Regions from separate parts of the Homo sapiens genome. Here region 1 is linked to region 2. Evidence: fine-mapped expression QTL. A gene starts in region 2. The other region holds a variant in brackets. All regions are shown on one strand. Distances are from middle to middle.

Region 1 (5,536 bases), 350 kb after region 2:
ATATCAAAACTACAATGAGATATCATCTCACTCTCATTAAAATGGCTTTTATCCAAAAGACAGGCAACAACAAATGCTGGCGAGGATGTGAAGAAAATGGAACCCTTGTATGCTGTTGGTGGGAATGTAAATTAGTACAACCACTGTGGAGAACAGTTTGGAGGTTCCTCAAAAAATTAAAAATAGCACTACCATATGACCCAGCAATCCCACTCCTAGGTATATACCCAAAAGAAAGGAAATCAGTATATCAAAGAGATATCTACACTCCCGTGTTTATTGTAGCACTAGTCACAATAGCCAGGAATTGGTAGCAATCCATTAGCAGATTAATGGATAAAGAAAACGGGTTACATATACAAAATGGAGTATTATTAAACCATTAAAAAGAATGAGATTCTGTTATTTACAACAGTGTGGATGGAACTAGAGGTCATTGTGTTAAGTTAAATAAGCCAGACACAGAAAGACAAACTTTGCATGTTTTCACTTATTTGTGGGAGCTAAAAATTAAAACAATTGAACTCATGGAGATAGATGGTAAAGGGATGGTTACCATAGGCTTGTAAGGGTAGTGGAGGAGGGAGGGAAGTGGGGATGGTTAATGAGTACAAAAAAAATAGAAAGAATGAATAAGACCTAAGGTTTGCTAGCCCAACAGGGTGACTATAGTCAAAAATAATTCAATTGTACAGTTTTAAATAACTAAAAGAGTATAATTGGATTGTTTGTAACACAAAAAATAAATGCTTGAGGTGACAGACACCCCATTTACACCCCATGTGATTATGATACATTGCATGCCTGTACCCCATGCCTGTACAAAATATCTCATGTACCCCATAAATATATACATCTACTATGTAGCCAAAAAAATTAAAAGTTAATTTTTTTTAATTTGTACCTTTTTTCATTTTCTTATATAGGCATTTAAAGCTATAACTTTCTAACTATAACTTTCATTGCTTCTCATACAATATTTAATGGATGAATTTAATTAATATTAACATTCAGTTTTAAATATTTTCTAATTTTCATTATTTTTTTGCTTGACTCATGAGTTGTTTAGACGTGTGTTGATTTAATTTCAAATCCATGTGGGATTCTTTTTGTTGTCTTTTAATTTAAATTATTAATTTAATTGCATTATAGTCAGATACTGCCTCTTCCCAAATCTTCCTGTGCTCTCCTTCTAGAAGGCCTATGAAACATATATTGAATCTTATGCTCTCCAACATGTCTCTTAACTTCTTTTTCATATCTTCTATCATTTTCTTTTCAGTGCCTTCTGGTTGATTTCTTCAAATTATATTACAGTCTACTAATTTTCTCTCCAGCTATATCTAATTTGTTTAACCTATGATAAATTATTAATTTCAATTACTTTAGTTTTCACCTTTATAAAGTGTGTTCTTTTTTTAACCTTATTTTTTCTTATATTTATAATTCATTTATGTCTCTATCATTTTCAATATTCATTTTTCATAGTCTATGTGATAGTTCCATCACTTTTAGGTCTTATTCTAATCCTGCTCTTTGTGTTTGCTAACTCTCACTTGTGGGGGATTTTGTTCTTATGTTTTATAGTTTGAGGTTGTGAGTTAATCTTTAGAAGATATTTATGTTTAGGAATCTTGTGAAACTTGGTTGAATGGTATCTTTCTCCTAAGAAGTTTGTAACAGATTCTGCCAGGTGCTTTAGAAGTATCAGTAATCTGGGCTCTCTGTAGTTAATTTTTCAAGTTGTGATTTTTCCATACTACACAAGTAGTACAAATTCAATTCCCAAACCTAAATGAGGTACAAATCCATAGAGATGTGTTTTTGAAGGAGACATTCTTTTTCTAAGACACAGCTTCCTTGTCTCTTCTGTTCTGATGATTTTTTTTCAGTCCTTTCCATTCCAAGGTCACAACTTTGTACTGAAGATCTCTGTTCCAACCCACAGAACCTCAATTTTCCATTTCATATCTCAAGCCCTTTGTTAGTGAGACTAATAATACTGTCCCAAAGGCAGCCACAGTATCAATTCAAGTGTTTATCCCTGGAGTTTTCAATTCAACCTTTACTTCTGACCCATAGTAATGATTTTATTTCCTTTCAAGATTAGACATGCAGTATTTCTAAGCATCCGTAGCAGGGATGATAGTAAGATTATTAGCCATGTTTCTAGAACTGTTAGTAAAAAGTAACTTATTTTCTCTAGTAAAAATCAACTTACAGCACAATTGGCAAGCTGAATCCTTGTAATTTACCAATTATGAAACTTTTTCAGTTCACAATTATATTATCCAAAGCTTGTTTGATCCCACTTGGTCCCAGTTTCAGAAAACCACATGGAAAAAAATATATAATAATTATAGGTGCATACATAGCCCCTAGCTACAACTAGAAACATTACACTGAACTTTACATGGATCCAAATAAATCCTTTAATTTTCTGGATTCCCTCTGAAGCCCATCCCATCACCTTTTTCTAGAGTCCTCTAGTGCTTCCTCTCTCTCCTCTCCCTCTCTCTCACACACACACACAAGACAGAGACAGAGAAAGG[G/C]AGAGAGATCATTTTTCATATAAGTGTTCACTGCTTACTGTCAACAAGTTATATGGCTTTTCTTCTTCCTTTCCATTAATTCAATACAACTTGTCTAAGTTCCTGCTGTGCTCTAGACATTGGAGATGTTGCCAAAAACAAAACAAAACCTTTGACCCACAGGGTTTCAATCATAGTATAGAAGAAATACAAATAATAAACAAATTAATAAATATATTTTAGTTTGAACCAAATGAAATGGCCAATATTCAGCTGTTCTTGATCCACCCAAAAGCAATTTCATATGGTTCAACTTGATAGAATATGACAGGTGGTGCTACGTGCTGTGAAGAAGATAGGGTAAGTGGAGAGAAAGTCATGGGTGCATGTGAGTGTGCTATTTTAGATAGCATGGCCACAGAACCTCTCTTTTTAAGTGCTATTTGAACAGATGATAATGGAGTGAGAAAGTGTGTAATACGGATATCTGGGGGAAGAATATTCTAATCAGAAATGAAGGTGGAAAGGCCCTGAGGAGGGATGGCATATAAAAGAGCAGCAAGGAAACAGAGGGACCTGAAGGGAGCGAGTGACAGTAAGAGTGGTGCAAGATAAGGACAGAGAAGGTCAGGGCCAGGCCCAAGAATGCCATGTCAGCCATGGCAAGACATTTGATCTCACTCCTCATGAGTTGGGAAGCTGTTGGCAGGTTTGGGCAGAGGAGAGGCAAAATCAGACTTGTATTTTCAAGGATGTGGAGGCCAGCCTCCAAGGAGCAAGATGAACAGAAGGGGCTTAGGTAGGAGATGACTGCTTTCATGCAAGAGTGAGACCATGGTAACAGACTCAGGTGGTAGCAAAGGAAATAGGACAGACTGGACCTTCACAATTCTTTCATGACCTCTCTTATCTTTCTTTTTAAAAAGTATATTTGTCTTATCAATTTCTTATTCCCAAACAAGTATATTTCCAAGCTTCCACTTCTTGCCCTTGGTTGGTATTGGTGTCAAAATCATTTTGCCTGCCTGCTTCGATAGCCTGCTTTCCAACAGGAAACTTCTAAATCTCTTTACATTCAGTGCTCCAAAAATATACATTTGCACTTCCCATAGCCTGACACATCTGCATCATCCCTTTTGTTCCTAATCACTCTCAGAACAACAGCAGCATACCTGATTGAGGAGCAGCTGGCATTCACTGCGCAAAGAGCACCATCAAAAATTGAGCATGTGGCTCCAAGAGCCACCACTGTTTCCTTCTGTTTCTTGCCAAAGACTGTAACTTGTGGGTAGGCTGGGCCTGAGTGATAGCAGGAAATGGCCCACTGCCATGCAAAGTGGCTCCTCTGAAAAAACTTTTAACCATATCCCTGCAGCTGGACCCCTTCCTCTGAAGTTTCTAGATATTGCAACTCCCCAAAGAGGAAGTTGTCTAAGGGAGGTACAATGCTTTAGGGAGAAACTGACCACAGCTTAATGGCTTGTGAATGCAACCACTGCAACTTCTGGGCCCATTTCCCTCTCATGCCCACACAGGGCTGGGTGTGTTCTATTAAACATTTAGGTAAAAGGAATAAGTAACTAGCTCAGCAATGTCAGCATCATGTCACCATGGCATGACAGAAACTCAGTTTTCTGACTCTTAGTGAAATGGATCATTCAAGAGTAAAGCATTAAAATGTTTATAAAATACAGTTGGTCCAAGAGGACAAGTTGTGTCAAAATCATTTTCCAAGACACCTCATGTTTTAAAAAATCCTAACATGTAGCCTGCATGCAATATGCAAACAGGCTGCTAAGGAGAGGACATGACATTAAAATGTCAGTAGAATTACTGCTCAGCTGTAAGAACTCACACACTTTAGATTTAACAGCAGTGAGTTTACATTGGGTCACAAGAAATAGGATTTAAATGAATATTCCAAACCTATTTTCTGAAAATGCATTTTGCAAAGATACAGGTAGGCATACCTACTTCTGAAAAAAAATTCATTTGCAATAGAAAATGGGATGAGAAAACAGAAATAAAATGTATTCATCACCCTTGTCACTCCTCTATTTTAAATAAAGCAGAAACCACACATAACATTCCAGGATATTAAGCTAGGTATGAAATGATGTTCAGACTACTAAGGCTAAAGATTACAGCCATAATTCAATCTGATATTAAATGCATTTATGATGCCATATAATGTGGGAGACATTTAAAATGACTACCAAAATTTCTACTAATATGACCTTTTCTTGAATTTTATTGTTAAAAATCCTTTTCTGCCAAAATGTCAAGGTTTCTCACAGTGCTTCTACATACACTGTAACCCCAGTAATAGAAAATGTATATTTTCTGTAGACACTGGGGCTATCATCAGACAAATTTATTCTGCTGAAACTGGAGTCAACATTAAAAGAGTTTTTTGCAGCATAGGTATTTTTTCACTTATAAGTTATTACTCATTTTTCCTAATACTGTGCAGATAATATAACAACAATATTGAAGGTTTTTTTTAATATTTGAAAATTCATTGCACATAAAAGCATGCTATGCTATTGTTCCTGTTTTAGGTCCCCAGTCCCTGATCAAAGATGATATACATCTCTAGAGGCAGCTAGGAGGTGTCTCTAAGCTGGTAATAGTCGGGGTTGGATTTGTCTCAAAGCAGCAAAAACTTGTAAAGATGGTTCTGCATCCCTAAGCCTTCTCTATCTGATAACTTTGATTATTTTCAAGTATAATCATGTGCCATATAATGACATTTAGGTCAACAATGGACCACATACTACAGTGGTCCCATTAGATTATAACGAAGCTGAAAAATTCCTATAGCCTAGTTATTAATATACCATAGGCATAGTAATGTCATAATGGAAAGCAGTACTTATATGTTTGTAGCAATGTTGGCATAAAAAACCTACTGTGCTGTCATTCATATAAATTAGAGCACACACAATTATGTGTACTACATAATACATGATAACAATAACAAATAATGGTTACTAATTTATGTG
Region 2 (5,000 bases):
AACCATTCAACTAAAAATTTCAAATAGAACAATTAATCAATGTAGAAAGCATAGCAAAAAATAAATTCAAATCAATGATGCAATACCTCTATTCCAATTAGCTTATTTTTCTTTCTTCCACTCTCTCAGGCATATTCTATTTTATTAAAAAATGAAGTCAATTAAGAAACTCTACAAAATCAATCAGCCCACAGATCAAGCTAGAACTCTTGTTCTTATTTAATGTTTATTAAGGGCTCATCATCACACGGTATTTTTCTATTAATAGGTCAAATATACAAAGTATCAGGCTTGCCTTCATTCTATCATTGGGGTCCTACATAGTGTCGTGCTCAACCAAAGGGGAGAGAGAAGGACATCCACCTCTTCAAACAAAGGGTCTTAGCAGTCTTGGCTGAAAAATGAAACTTTTATATTAATTTATGGAAGTCTGCAGTCTTTGATCTGAATTGAGGTTATTAATTACAATTCTTATTCTTCCCATCCAACAGGTACAAGAACATCTCCAACAAGGTACCTAAGGGTGTGAGCCAGGCAAAGGGCTAAGAGCATATATGCAAGCTGAAATGATGTGTACACATCAGGGTTATGATAGTTTGGCTGGATTCCCTTGTACATAGTGTATACAACAGAGAGACATGCTCACACACACACACACACACAAAACTCAAACACACATTTGAACACCATTATGATTTTCTGATCAGTCCAACCTACTGTCAATCAGAGTTGGACAAACAATCCCAGCCCTAGATTTTCCTGTTTCCACACCCAGACCTGATTTACAATTTATAACTGCCCATTGTTCAGACTTGTGGCTTGGAGGTGCAGTACATCGATGCCTGTCCACATCTAAGGTTAGATGACGACCCCTCTACTTTACTATTAGATGTGCCAAGGATCAGCAGCTCCTGAAATCTTTTTCCTGTGCCTGTGTGGGGGAGGGGATTCACGGCGTGGAAGGCCTGGGACAGGGAAGAAAGGAGCTGTCCCTGGGTTATCAGGAAAGGGACCAAACGTGGGCCCCACATCCACCTCCACGCCTGAGTTAAGAATCTGGAGCTGACTCCTCAGAATGGCTGTAATTGGTCCTTTACTCATTTCCTTGGAGAAGCAGCGGTCAACTTCTACTAAAACTCCCGGTTGATAGGCGGCTTCCCTGCCCTGTCTTCCGGAGCACTTACGTTAAGGGGAAATCACTATAATCAAATCTCTACGTCTTGCCTGCTGCTAAAACAAGGCGCTTTCTTCCTGGGATTTTGCAGGGACGACTGATACACACACGGTCTCCCTACACACAAGCTCGCACACACCGACACAGTGTAACTCCCACAGCGTCCTCGCTCCTTCTCCCTCCCTCACCCCCTTGTCTCTCTCAAGGATTGCTGAACATTTTGCTCCAAACTCTCCAAGTCACCCACGTGTTCTCCCCTTTTGCTATTCAATTTACTTCTCCACCTGACGAAGAGAAATGCGAGTTGTTCTTAGGCTTTTAGCTGCAATCCTGGGACCAGGCTTTCTCACTCCCCCCTCCTCCCCAGTCAGAGCAGCCCCACCGACCCTCTTCCCAATAGGGTGAGTGGACAGATGCTGGGTGCTTTCGCTGGTCAAATCCCGCAAAACCTTCACCTTCTCTTCTTCTCCACCCAGAGCAAACTGATTTTGCCTGTTTAGTCTCACTAGCCAGGGTGGTATGGAAGTGGGTGGGGAGAGGGCTGGTGCGTGGCACAGATAACTGGGAAGCGCGCGCACCACACACACACACACACACACACACACACACACACACACACACGGCCCCAGTTAACATTTATGCAGTACTTTTGGGGGGTCTCTTACACACACCTGAATAGCATACTCTCAATAAAGGATAGGCACACCCCTGTTTGTCCTCCCCCAATTTCCAGACTAGCATTTTACCCTGGGTCTAGAATTGGTGGTGATAAGCCGACTTAGATGGAGTATTTGAGAAAAGGGGAGGTGACCCTTTGCCTGAATGGGGGAGGGGGCGCTCTCCACTCACCGCCTGAGTCCCTGGAACGAGGAGGGCCAGGACATCCTGGATTTCTTCAGGCCGGGCCGGTGGCCGGTCTCCACCGCGTAGGAGGTGCGGTCCATGGCGCGACAGTACAGGTAGCGCTCGGTGTCCGAGTAGCCGCGATGCCGGACGCGGCCGGTGGCCCCGCTCGAGGCGTAGCGGCCGCGGGCAGCCCCGGGCGGCGGCGGGGGCGGCGGCAGGGGGGGCGGCGGCGGCGGCTGTAGCGGACACTGGGGCTGGGGCTGGGGCGAGGGTGGCGGCGGCGGGGGCAGGTGGTGATGGGGATGCAGGAGGCGGAACTGGGGCTGCCGGAGCGGGTACTGGTGGTGCTGCTCGTGCCTCCAGAGATGCTTGGGGGCTTTGAGCGTGGCCCCGCCGGCGCTGTCGCTGCCCTCTCCGCTGCCCGCCCGGGCCGGCGCGCTGCTGCCCTCTGCCTCCATCCTGGCTCGCGGCTCCGCGACCTGCTGCCCAGCCCGGGTTCACCGCGCTGGCCCGAGCGCCTTCCTGATGCTGCTGCTGCTGCTGCCGCCGCCGCCGCTTCTGCAGCCCAGCAGAGGCTGGTGCTTAGCTTCTCACTTGAAGGCGCCAGAGCCTCAGGGCTACCGAGAGGGGGCCCTGCCAGCGGGAGGGGTCACAGAACGCGGCAGGGCTCCTTCCACCGAGGCTATGGCAGAGACACGCTCCCGGGCTCCCCAAGTCACCAAGACTAGGGTGCGCGGTGCCCGGTTTCGCCAGAGGTTGGTCCTTCTTCCTCCCTTTCTTCTTCCCTTCCTTTGGGCGCCGGCGGCGAGAGCAGGGATTGTCAGCAACTCGGGCTGCAGAAGCAGCAGCAACGGCGGCGGCGGCAGTGGTAGCCGCCTCCAGGGCACCGGAACCCTGATCCCGGAGCTGCTGAAAAGTTGGACAGCTCCAGGCTGGCACGCCCGAGCTGTGACTTTCACCAAAACCACTCCAGCCAGTCAGGAGTCAGACCTGTCCTCTTGATCCTTCCCCTCGCCGTGCCCGCGCCTCCCTCCTCCACACTGCTCCCCACTGCCCCGGAGCCTTCCTCTTCACCTCCGCTTGCCTCAGTGCTCTTAGAGAAATGGAGTTTGGCGATTCCTGGCTGGTTCTCAGAGCTTGTTGACGATGAGCCCCATGCTGGTGCTTCCAAAGATAAGGAATGTGACCAGGCAAAGTTGCCTGGAATATTGTCTATGCGCGTCGCTGAAAAATTGGATCTGGGTGAAGATCCAATAGTAAGATTAATTCAGTCTCTTTCCCTGACATAGGATAAAACATTGTGTGGCTCTTTCCCACAGCAGGGAGAATGCCCAATGTTTCCTCTTGAAGATCTTCCTCCAACTTGGCCTCGGGAGTGGTCCTCGCTGGAAATCAAGGCGAGTCGTCCTTAGTTGCAGAGCCATGGCTGAGCCCGCTGGCCAGAGTTAAGGTTAAGGCACCTTTTCAATTACAAACCTCTGATTATCTTCGGTAGTCTCTATCTTCAGTGCCTGCCTGCAATTTGCCTTTCTGCCACTTCCAGCAGAACACAGCTCTATTACTAAAGTGTTTTAAAAACATGTTGTATCAATATTCACAGAAATTAGAGTCCTATGAGGCACTAGAATCCAAATTCAACTTTTGTCTTCCTTTAATTAGCATTTTCCTGCAGTGTCAAATGTTTTTTAAAGAAGCCAAGAGGATTTCAGGGCAATATATAGACACTTTTTTCCCTGTACCTTTTTTATTTGACCATATTACTTAAAGATGAAATGCAATTTGCTTACTGTTAAAATAATTCTAGAATTTTTCTTTGTGGAAGTTACCACGTACCATCCATTATTTGAACGATAATATATTTAGGACTCACAACAACTTGTTGGCTGTGTAATTATTCTATTCTTCCCACACACTCAGTCTTAACATATTTTCATATGTACATTTCAAGCATATCATGTAATGGATGCTAGAGTACCAGAATCAGGAACCATGTCTCAAACTCTCTAGACTGCTGAAAATTCAACACTCTCCACACAGTCTAGATGCCACTGGGAAAATAATGCCAATGAAAATAAGTGCTCACTTTGTTTATCAGCAAGAACAGTCCACGAAATGTGCAAGTGGCAGGAGAAGGCCTTCATCATCTCTTCATGCTATTTATTTATTTATGGTTGGAAATATACCTTTCCTCCATCAGTTTAATATGAGCCCTCTGCTCATATGTGGACTATACACAAAATCTGAGAAAGGTTGTGTCTTAAGAGAAACAAGGCAATCTCCTAAGCACCACTCTCCACTGTGTAGGATTAAACCATACTTTACAAAGGCACTCTTTTTGCCCCTTTTGCAGACACAAGTGTGACTGGTGGCAGTGGTCAAAGTATTTACCATGCCTAGGAGGGCACTAAGCCAGTATTTTCCCAAACACAAAAGGAGAGAAATGGAAGTGTTCTGCAGTATAGACTGCCTTTTTCTTTTAATTCATTGCATTATTAACATCCAAAACCATTTTAAAGAAGTACACAAATTTCTTCTTTCCCCTGAAATGCTTGCCACCTTTCGCCTCAATATAACTGTGGCAAAATACCTCTATCCGAAACTCTTATTCTAATTTCTCATACACTAACAGTACAAGTGACTTATAATTTTTTTCCAGATTAAATTGGAATAATTCAAATCCAACCTGATTTTCACCACCAATTTGCTCCTTCCTTTTTACTCATGAAAACTTTATCTTTTATATATTTCCCACTGATTTTTAAAAATTCTTTGTTTTGTTTTTACTATGTAATTGCAAGTCAGGAACATTTTAAAATGTAAGAAAATCATTTAATATGTTTCCAACTTGTAGAGTTTTTAATTTAACTTATAATTCCAAAATGTTATTGATAGTAATAGTTTCTTGTGTGATCTTTGAGGTTACAGCTTGAGTTCCAATCTACCACTTCCTACCCATGTTACTTTAGCTAAATTATTTACC

What was found. PIP is the estimated chance that this variant, and not a neighbour inherited with it, causes the effect. A credible set is the group of variants that fine-mapping cannot tell apart.
Region 1: its variant is the best candidate, but not a certain one, in a credible set for the expression of PDE4D in whole blood (INTERVAL, PIP 0.57).

The regions. Positions count from the first base shown.
Region 1 is chr5:60,245,213-60,250,748 of GRCh38, forward strand. It overlaps a transcript of PDE4D not described here. Among named protein-coding and RNA genes, the nearest start is that of PART1, 240 kb to the right of the region's middle. The variant G/C (reference allele first, on the strand shown) is at 2,553.
Region 2 is chr5:59,891,145-59,896,144 of GRCh38, forward strand. PDE4D (phosphodiesterase 4D) reads right to left here and starts at 2,582. Exons shown (of 15, transcript NM_001104631.2): 1 at 2,024-2,582. The coding sequence starts at 2,478.